Homo sapiens: one gene and its partners. The protein of the gene in region 3 interacts with the protein of the main gene of each other region in a pairwise test. Each region holds a gene or a part of one and is shown on either strand. Other genes may lie near its edges.

Region 1 (2,213 bases), on a different chromosome or scaffold from region 3:
TGGGGCCGGGGCACCGTGGGACCTGGGTCTGCAGGGACTTCTGGCTGGGAAGGTTCCGGTGAGAGGGCCTGCCGCAGGTCTGCGGGGTAGGGTCAGGCAGAGGAGAGCCGAGTGCAGGGGCCAGGTGAGGGCCAGGTGAGGGTCAGGTGAGGGTCAGGTGAGGGTCAGGTGAGGGTCAGGTGAGGGCCAGGCGAGGGCCAGGCGGGGTCCAGGCTAGGTCTGGGGCCGGGAAGGAGCGGGGCCGGGAAGGAGCGGAGCGGAGCGGAGCCGGGGCTGGCCCGGCCCAGGACCTAGACGGAGGGGCCCCACCCTCGGAGCTCCGTGCCCTGCCTCCCGCGTGCCCTTCTGCCACAGCCCCGCCCAGGCCTCACCTCTCTTGGACTCGGCGTCCGAGTCAGACACGTGCGTGATGGAGAAGCGGGACGTGGGCGCGGGCGACACCGTGAAGCGCGAGAAGGGAGCGGGCGTGGGCGTGGGCGCAGCCGGGGCGGGTGCGGCCGGGTCTAGGGCCATGGCGAAGGCTGCCTTGGCCGTCATCAGCGGGAAGTCGTCGTCCCACGCGAACCCACCACCTGCAGCCCAGGTCGCGGCGTCACTCGCGCTCACAGCCTGGGACCCCGGCCCGGCCCCGCTCCCACAGTCACGGGCCCAGGCCCCGCCTCCCATCATGTCACGGGCCCAGGCCCCGCCTCCCATGATGTCACGGGCCCAGGCCCCGCCTCCCATGCAGCACGGACAAGGCCCCGCCTTCCGTGACGTCACGTACCAGACCCGCCTCCCATGACGACACGGGCCAAAGCCCGCCTCCCACGCGTCAAGGACCAGGTGCTCCTCCCATGATGTCACACATTAGGCCCCGCCTCCCACACAGCACGGACCAGGCCCTGCCTCCCGTGACGTCACGGGCCCAGCCCCGCCCCTGCTCACCCTCTTCCGCTGTGGAGCCATTTGGGGAGCCATCAGCCTGCTGCGGCCGGTTGGGGGCGCTGGGAGAGCCGGGGCTCCCCCTAAGGAACGTAGGGGGCGATTCCTTGGCGCCCGGGAAGGGCTCCCCGAGCTCCCGGGTGGGGCTTTCCTGGAGGAATCAGAGAGCACCAGGTAGCTCGGCCGCCAGGAGCCGCGGCCGCTCCCACCCCTTCCTGCGGGAGCGCGACCCCCAGCCCCGGGCAGACCCCGGGTGGCGGCGGCCCACCTGGTCAAAGAGGTAGACGGTGACGTCGTCGAAGAAGGACACGGCCTTCTTCTTGCGTTCCAGGTCCTCGCAGAAGGTCTCGGACAGCAGGCTGGGCATCTTGAGCAGGCTGCGCAGGTTGCGCGCGCTCTGGCTCTCAGCCACCACCACGGGCACCGCCGGCGCCTCCTCTTCGCTGTCCTCGCTAGGCTCCTGGACGCTGTAGCAGCGGAGCTCCTCGTCAGACTCGTCGCTGTCCTCACTGTCCTCCTCCTCCTCCTCCGGCCGGCCCTCCAAGGCCGCAGGGAGGCCGGGCAGAGCCAGGCGGAGTGGGGCTCTGGGGGTGCCTGGGCCCCCCATCCGCTTTTGTGGGGCCGGCCCTGACAACAGTCCTGGGGGCCCCTGGAACTCAGAGCTGTTGCCTTCTGATCTCAGCGGAACCGGGGTCAGCAGGAAAAACTGGGAGCAGCTGGGGCTGGGCCCAGGCCGCACCTTGGCTGGGCCTTGGGGCTCCGGAGGCTCTGGGACCAGGCCCGAGGGGCAGGTGCTGGGCTCTGGGGAGGACCCTTCAAGCTGCAGCAGTGGGGGCAGCACCTCCCCGGGGCCAGAGCCTTGTGCCTCCCCGGAAACCCCAGGCCTGAGACAGACCTGCTCAGACGGCTGCCCAGTGCTCGGCAGGCCCAGCTCTGGCCCGGGGGCTCGGTCCCCGCCGCACTTCTTCTCTGGGCCTGAGGTGGCCTCGGCCTCAGCCTCGAGGTCTGAGAAGTAGGCAGAGTCTCGGTAGGGATTCTTCTCGTTGAGGCCACTGAGGGAGGTGGAGAGCCGTGTCTCGGGCCCGGGGCCCTCACCCTCTGAGGCCAGCTCCGCAAAGGCCTGGGGCTCACACCCTTCCTGCGCCTCCTTGAGCACAAACTCAGGGGACTCATAGTTCTCGGTGTCATAGCCACTGTCCAGCGCTCGCGGCTGCCCTCCAGAGGGGCCAGTGGCCGACGGGCTGAAGACCTCATAGCCACCATCACTGGCTGAGGACGGGATGTCCAGG
Region 2 (3,500 bases), on a different chromosome or scaffold from region 3:
AAAATTAGCCAGGCGTGGTGGCGGGTGCCCGTAGTCCCAGCTACTCGGGAGGCTGAGACAGGAGAATGGCCTGAACCCGGGAGGTGGAGCTTGCAGTGATCGTGCCACTGCACTCCAGCTTGGGCGAGATCGTGCCGAGATCGTGCCACTGCACTCCAGCTTGGGTGACAGAGCGAGACTCCGTCTCAAAAAAAAAAAAAAATCCAAGGGTGCTCAAGTCTCTTATATAAAATGGTGTCGTATTTACATATAACGTACACACAACTTCCCTGTATACTTTTGTTTTGTTTTGTTATGAGACAGGGTCTCCTCTATCACCCAGGCTAGAGTGCAGTGGCACAATCTTGGCTCACTGAAGCCTCAAATTCCTGGGCTCAAGCAGTCTTCCTGCCTCAGTGCTCTAAAGTATGAGGATTACAGGCATGATCCACTATGCCCAGCTTCTCCTGTATACTTTAAATCATCTCTAAGGGCCAGGTTTACGCCTGTTATCCCACCACTTTGGGAGGCAGAGGGAGGAGGATCGCTTGAGCCCAGGGGCTCAAGACCAGCCTTGGCAACACAATGAGACCTCCACCTGTACAAAAAAAAAAAAAAAATTGCCAGGCATGGTGGCACGTGCCTGTGGTCCCAGCTGCCCAGGAGACTGAGGTGGGAGTATTGCCTGAGCCCAGCAGGTTGAGGCTACAGTAAGCCATGATTGTGTCACTGCACTTCGGTCTGGGTGACAGAGTTCAAAAAAAAAAAAAAAAAAAAGGGCAGGATGCAGTGGCTCACGCCTGTAATCCCAGCACTTTGGGAGGCTGAGGTGGGCGGATCATGAGGTTAGGAGAGCGAGACCATCCTGGCTAACATGGTGAAACCCCATCTCTACTAAAAATACAAAAAATTAGCCAGGCGTGGTGGCAGGCGCCTGTAGTCCCAGCTACTTGGGAGGCTGAGGCAGGAGAATGGCGTGAACCCGGGAGGCAGAGCTTGCAGTGAGCCGAGATTGCACCACTGCACTCCAGCCTGGGTGTCAGAGCGAGACTCTGTCTCAAAAAAAACAAAAAAATCTGTAAATTACTTGTAATACCTATTACAATGGAAATGCTATGTAAATAACTGTTGTATTCTTTAATTTGTATTCTTTTTTATTGTTGTATTGTTTTTAATTTTTATCTTCCCCCAGTGTTTTTGATCCTCTGTTGAGGGATGTGGAGCCCAGGGATAAGGAGTATATCTGGCAAAGCAGCAACTCAGACTCATTGGCAGGCCCTGTGGCCCTGGATGAACCTCTTAGCTTCTCAGCCTCTTCTATAAAGGGACATCCTAGAGTTGTGCTGAGGATTAAGTATAATGAAGTAGGCCGGGTGCAGTGGCTCACATCTGTAATCCCAGCACTTTGGGAGGCCAAGGCAGGCGGATCACCTGAGGTCAGGAGTTCAAGACCAGCCTGGACAACATGGTGAAGCCCCGTCTCTACTAAGAATACAAAAATTAGCTGGGTGTGGTGGCACACACCTCTAATCCCATCTACTCAGGAGGCTGAGGCAGGAGAATCACTTGAACCCGGGAGGTGGAGGTTGCAGTGAGCCGAGATCGCGCCGCTGCACTCCAGCCTGGGCGACGGAACGAGACTCCGTCTCAAAAAAAAAAAATACACACACACACACACACACACAGCCCTTTCTTGGTCTTCCCTCTGTGGTGTGCTTCAAAGATTCCTTCAGCTTTACAGTCATTCCCAACAATAGACATTTTACCTACTGGGACCCTCCATTCCAGTCCAGCTGGAATATTTGCCATCTCCTAACACATATCTGGTTTTCTCCCACCTTTCTTTCCTTCGGGCCAGTCCCCGGTTGTACATTGCCTTCTCCTGTCTCTCTGTTGCCCAGCCCCACCGCCTCTTCTTCCCTGAAGCTGTCCTATCTCTCCTGCCAGAAGGTAGACACTGTAGAACTTCTGGACTGTCATTCTTGCGACACCATCCATATTTTTGCCCCTATTGGGTTTTGTTTTAATTTACTGAGGGGCTCTCCCATAGAGTTTAGTACAGTACTTATTTATAATGGGTTCTTATGTAGGTGGTTTTTTTGTTTGTTGTTTGTTTGTTTTTGTTTTTTTTGAAATGGAGTCTGCCTGTGTCTCCCAGGCTGGAGGCATTGGCACGATCTTGGTTCACTGCAACCTCTACCTCCCAGGTTCAAGTGATTCTCCTACCTCAGCCTCCTGAGTACCTGGGTTTACAGGTGTGTGCCACTGCACCCAGCTAATTTTTGTATTTTTAATAGAGACGGGGTTTCCCCATGTTGGCCAGGCTGGTCTCGAACTCCTGACCTCAGGTGATCTGCCCACTTCAGCCTCCCAAAGTGCTGGGATTACAGGCGTGAGCCACTGCACCCAGCCGATATAACAGGTCCTCATATAGGTTTATTTAAAAAGTGAATGAACCATTTGGGTGCAGGGCAGAATGATCAAGGGTGGAGTTAAATATCCCCTTGCATCCTAGGCATGGGGAGTCTTTTGCACCCTCCCCAGCTTCTTTGAGTTGGGGTTGCCTGTTCCTCCTTGCGCCTGCTCTACGGTGACCAAATTAAGGATCAGACCTTCCTTCCCTGATCCTGGGCTGGCTGGTTTTGGTGGTGGTTTTTCTCAGTTTTGATGTGGTGGGTCTTCTAGCTTTCTCCAAGTTCTGTGCGTGGGTAAGCACCGCTACGTATGAAGCTGACTGCAACTTAAAAACTGGTGCTAAAGTTGCTTCCTCAGAGAACTGGGTAGGGGCCTAGAGTATCTATAACTGTGCTACTTGAAGAAAGACCCAGGGCCACGTGGCATCAGCATTCCTGGGAGCATGAATCAGAATCGCAATCTGCAATTTATTTATTTATTCTTTTTGAGATGGAGTCTCACTCTGTCGCCCAGGCTGAAGTGCAGTGGCACGATCTTGGCTCACTGCAACCTCCACCTCCTGGGTTCAAGCGATTCTCCTGCCTCAGCCTCCTGAGCAGCTGGGATTACAGGCGCGCACCACCACGCCAGGCTAATTTTTTTGTATTTTTAGTAGAGACAGGGTTTCACCATGTTGGTCAGGCTGGTCTCGAACTCCTGACTTCATGATCCGCCCACCTCAGCCTCCCAAAGTGCTGGGATTACAGGCGTGAGCCACCGTGCCCTGCTGCAATCTGCATTTTAACAAGATGCTCAGGTGACTCTGTACCCCAGAGTTCCAGAAGTCCTGGCCTAGGCATCCTTCTTTATACAGAATCTCAAGGCACAGAGCTTTCCTGTTGCAACAGTATAAATTGGGAGCTGAGATGCTGCACAGTATTTGAAGATTTGCTTTAAATAACTCACTTTATGCGAACACTCCTTGGGGTGATGTGTACGCTTTAATATTACCTCCTTTGGGTTTAAATTGAATTAGATTTTGTCAAGAAATTTCTCCATTAAATGTGTGACTCTAGGAAGTCTGCAATATTCAGCCTGATGTTTAGCTCCTCTCAGAACCTCAGCTT
Region 3 (3,500 bases):
CACTATGGGACAGCTAGATATAACCTACTTGACTCATCCCACAGACCCCCATACTCCGCAGGGACCATGTGGATATATCAGTGACCACCTCTCAGTCACAGCAGAGACTCATGGCTGCTTGCGTTAAACCAAATTAGACTTCCCCTCAGGAAACCTGCTCAGGTAGCACCTTACATCCCAATAAAGGCTTCCACTCTCAGGTCCCTCCCTCTCTCTCGCTATTGCTCCCACCCATCAGTCGAGCACAGGTCTCCTGGATGGCTCCCCCTTCCAGTTGGCCCTGTGTGCTGCCCTCTTCTCTCTGGAATTAATAAAAAACTGCTTTGGTTATTTCGTGTGTTGTATTGTGCTGCCTTCTCTGTTTCACCCAACTGAGTCACCCAAACCTAACTCTTTCTAGTCAGTGCTCCCAGCTACTCGGGAGGCTGAGGTGGGAGGATTGCTTGAGCCCAGGAGGGTGAAGCTACAGTTAGCTATGATCACGCCACTGCACTCCAGCCTGGGTGACAGAGTGAGACCCTGTCTCAACTTCTTAATTTTTTAAAAAAGATGCAAAACAAAATGTAATCATTGCTATGCAGTAAAACGTACCTTTGGGTTTTTTTTTTTTTAGCATCTTGGCTTTTACTTTTTTTGTGTTTATTTTGTATTTTTTGTATTTGAGAATACAGGTAAATTTAGAAAAATTTAGAAAATTTACAATTTAGAAAAAAACAAATGAACACAAATTATTTAAATTACATACGCTCTTTTAAAAAAATTTGTTATAGATCTGATTTATTGTTTTCCTCCCCCTCCCCCTCCCTTGTTGGGAATTGTAGTAAAGCAAATCTGAAATAAAATCATTAGACCAGACAAGAACAATGGCAGAGGCTATTTTGTGATTACTCACCGAAGAGAAAAACTGCACTTTCACATCATCATACAGAGGTGGACCGTCATATACATTAATTAATATTTTGTCTGTTTCAATGTCATGCAATATCTATGAATGAACACATGGAATTGAGAACTACAAACCTAGATAACGATAACAAAAGTTCCTTTTCACTTATCATGACTTCCTGTATTTATCAAGTACTTTTGCTCTCACAGCCCAATCACTACATGCATAAATAATTATTAATAATCTTTTCTAGTTGCAATACTGTTGTTTATGTGTGTGTGTGTTTTCATTTGTTTTTTGTTTTTTGAGACAGAGTCTCACTGTCACCCAGGCTGGAGTGCAGTGGCGTGATCTCGGCTCATGGCAACCTCTGCCTCCCAGGTTCAAGTGATTCTTGTGCCTCAGCCTCCCAAGTAGCTGGGACTATAGGCACAAGCCATCACACCCAGCTAATTTTTGAATTTTTAGTAGAGATGGGGTTTCACTGTATTAGCCAGGCTGGTCTCAAACTCCTGGCTTCAAGTGATCTGCCCGCCTGGGCCTCCCAAAGTGCTGGATTACAGGCATGAGCCACTGCACCCGGCCTGTTGTTTATGTCTTTTAAAGGCCAACATGTTTAGGGTTATCATGAACCACTTTTCTTTTTTTTTCTTTTCTTTTCTTTTTTTTTTTTTTTTTTTTTTTGAGACAGAGTCTCACTCTGTCACCAGGCTGGAGTACAGTGGCATGATCTCGGCTCACTGCCAACTTCTGCCTCCCAGGTTCAGCTGATTCTCCAGCCTCAGCCTCCCAAGTAGCTGGGACTACAGGCACGTGCCACCATGCCCAGCTAATTTTTGTATTTTTAGTGGAGACGGGGTTTCACCATGTTGGCCAGAATGGTCTCGATCTCTTGACCTCATGATCCACCCACCCTGGCCTCCCGAAGTGCTGGGATTACAGGCATGAGCCACCGTGCCCGGCCGTGAGGCACTTTTCAAAAGTGCTGCACTTTTAAAAAGTATTGAATTTTCCATTAGACTTTAATCAATTAAATATTATTATTTAATGTGTCTCATTTGATTTTCATGTGTTAGGGCCTTTTTTGAGAATACATTAAGAAGCTCAATTTTAAAGCTAGCATTGACATTCAAAAAGCAATGCATAACTTATCATGGTTTTTTATTTTCTAAATTTAAAAAATAACAACAGGGGTCTGTAACACTTGGGGGTTGGGCCTGCATGCTCCTCCCAAGGGAGGGGGAGAGTGGGGTCCCCCTGCTCATCATGTTTTATCAGAACTCTTGTGTTTGTCAATGGGATCTTTGAACTTGACCAGTGCAGGCTGCAGGATGGAGTGACCAAAGATAGCTCAAGTTTTGGAATGAATGACTTTGAAGCCGTACTAGTTCTTTGACTCATTCTCATAGAAATAATGGCACCCACAATAAGAAAGGTCTATGCTAGGCCCTGTGAAAAACACAAAAGGAGGTGCAGACTCAGTTGGCCCCTTCAGGGAGCTGTACATTTAAGAAACAATAGTAGAATGGTACATAACTCAATCTGTATGACAAAGACTGGGTGTGCTGTTATGTACTACTGGGGGCTAGTTAACAGAAGGTGCAGAATGCAAAAATTTCATTAAGGAGGTAGAAATTGAATTGGGCATGAAGCAGTTTAGATAAAGGAAGAAGAGCTCTGAAAAAAGAATTTAGTCCAAACGGAGAGAAAAAGACGAGCAATAACACAAAGTAGAAATTAGAAAAATGGGCCAGGTGCGGTGGCTCAAGCCTGTAATCCCAGCACTTTGGGAGGTTGAGGTGGGCAGATCACCTGAGGTCGGGAGTTTGAGACCAGCCTGACCAACATGGAGAAACCCCGTCTCTACTAATAATACAAAATTAGCCAGGTGTGGTAGCACATGCCTGTAATCCCAGCTACTTGGGAGGCGGAGGCAGGAGAATCGCTTGAACCCAGGAGGCAGAGGTTGTGGTGAGCTGAGATTGTGACAGTGCACTCCAGCCTGAGTAACAAGAGCAAAACTCCATCTCAGAAAAAAAAGAAAAGAAAAAGAAAAAACTTGGAAAAACAACAACAAACAATGTCGGGCAGTGTGGTTCATGTTTATAATCCCAGCATGTTGCAAGGCTGAGGTGGACAGGCTGCTTGAGCCCAGGAGTCTGAGACCAGCCTGGGCAACATAGCAAGTCCCAGGCTCTACAAAAAATAAAAAAAATTAGGGGATTGCTTGAGCTCAGGAGGTTGAGGCTACAGTGAGCCATGATCATGCCACTGCACTACAGCCTGGGTGACAGAATGAGACCCTGGCTCAGGAAAAAAAAAAAGGAAAGGAAGAAATAACCAACTAACTAACTAACTAAATTAGAGTTGTGTTCCAAGAGCCAAAAGGGATGACCCAGTTTATTTGGAATGAAGTCTGCTGGTCAAGCTACTGATGGAAAAAAGCTCAGGTATTATGTTAGGGCTATTACATCTTCAGAGCTCGAGCCAAGGAAATAAGAGAGAAGTTGTTGAAAAATATGGTGGGGCATTTCCTATGTGACAAAGAGGCCTGATAATTATCACATATAACACTTATTTAGTGATTTATAGTTCACAAAGAAACTTCATATAT

What was found.
Region 1: the proteins of TPTE2 (region 3) and AATK interact in a two-hybrid assay, tested with the Homo sapiens proteins (one study listed by BioGRID and IntAct).
Region 2: the proteins of TPTE2 (region 3) and PTK7 interact in a two-hybrid assay, tested with the Homo sapiens proteins (one study listed by BioGRID and IntAct).

Annotation. Positions count from the first base shown.
Region 1 is NC_000017.11:81,119,009-81,121,221, forward strand, and holds part of AATK (serine/threonine-protein kinase LMTK1), read right to left. Parts: coding exon 1,193-2,213; intron 1,076-1,192; coding exon 928-1,075; intron 573-927; coding exon 372-572; intron 1-371. UniProt on the Homo sapiens protein: May be involved in neuronal differentiation.
Region 2 is NC_000006.12:43,079,314-43,082,813, forward strand, and holds part of PTK7 (inactive tyrosine-protein kinase 7 isoform a precursor), read left to right. Parts: intron 1-3,500. UniProt on the Homo sapiens protein: Inactive tyrosine kinase involved in Wnt signaling pathway. Component of both the non-canonical (also known as the Wnt/planar cell polarity signaling) and the canonical Wnt signaling pathway.
Region 3 is NC_000013.11:19,425,533-19,429,032, forward strand, and holds part of TPTE2 (phosphatidylinositol 3,4,5-trisphosphate 3-phosphatase TPTE2), read right to left. Parts: intron 986-3,500; coding exon 893-985; intron 302-892; exon of another isoform or gene 175-301; intron 1-174. UniProt on the Homo sapiens protein: Acts as a lipid phosphatase, removing the phosphate in the D3 position of the inositol ring from phosphatidylinositol 3,4,5-trisphosphate.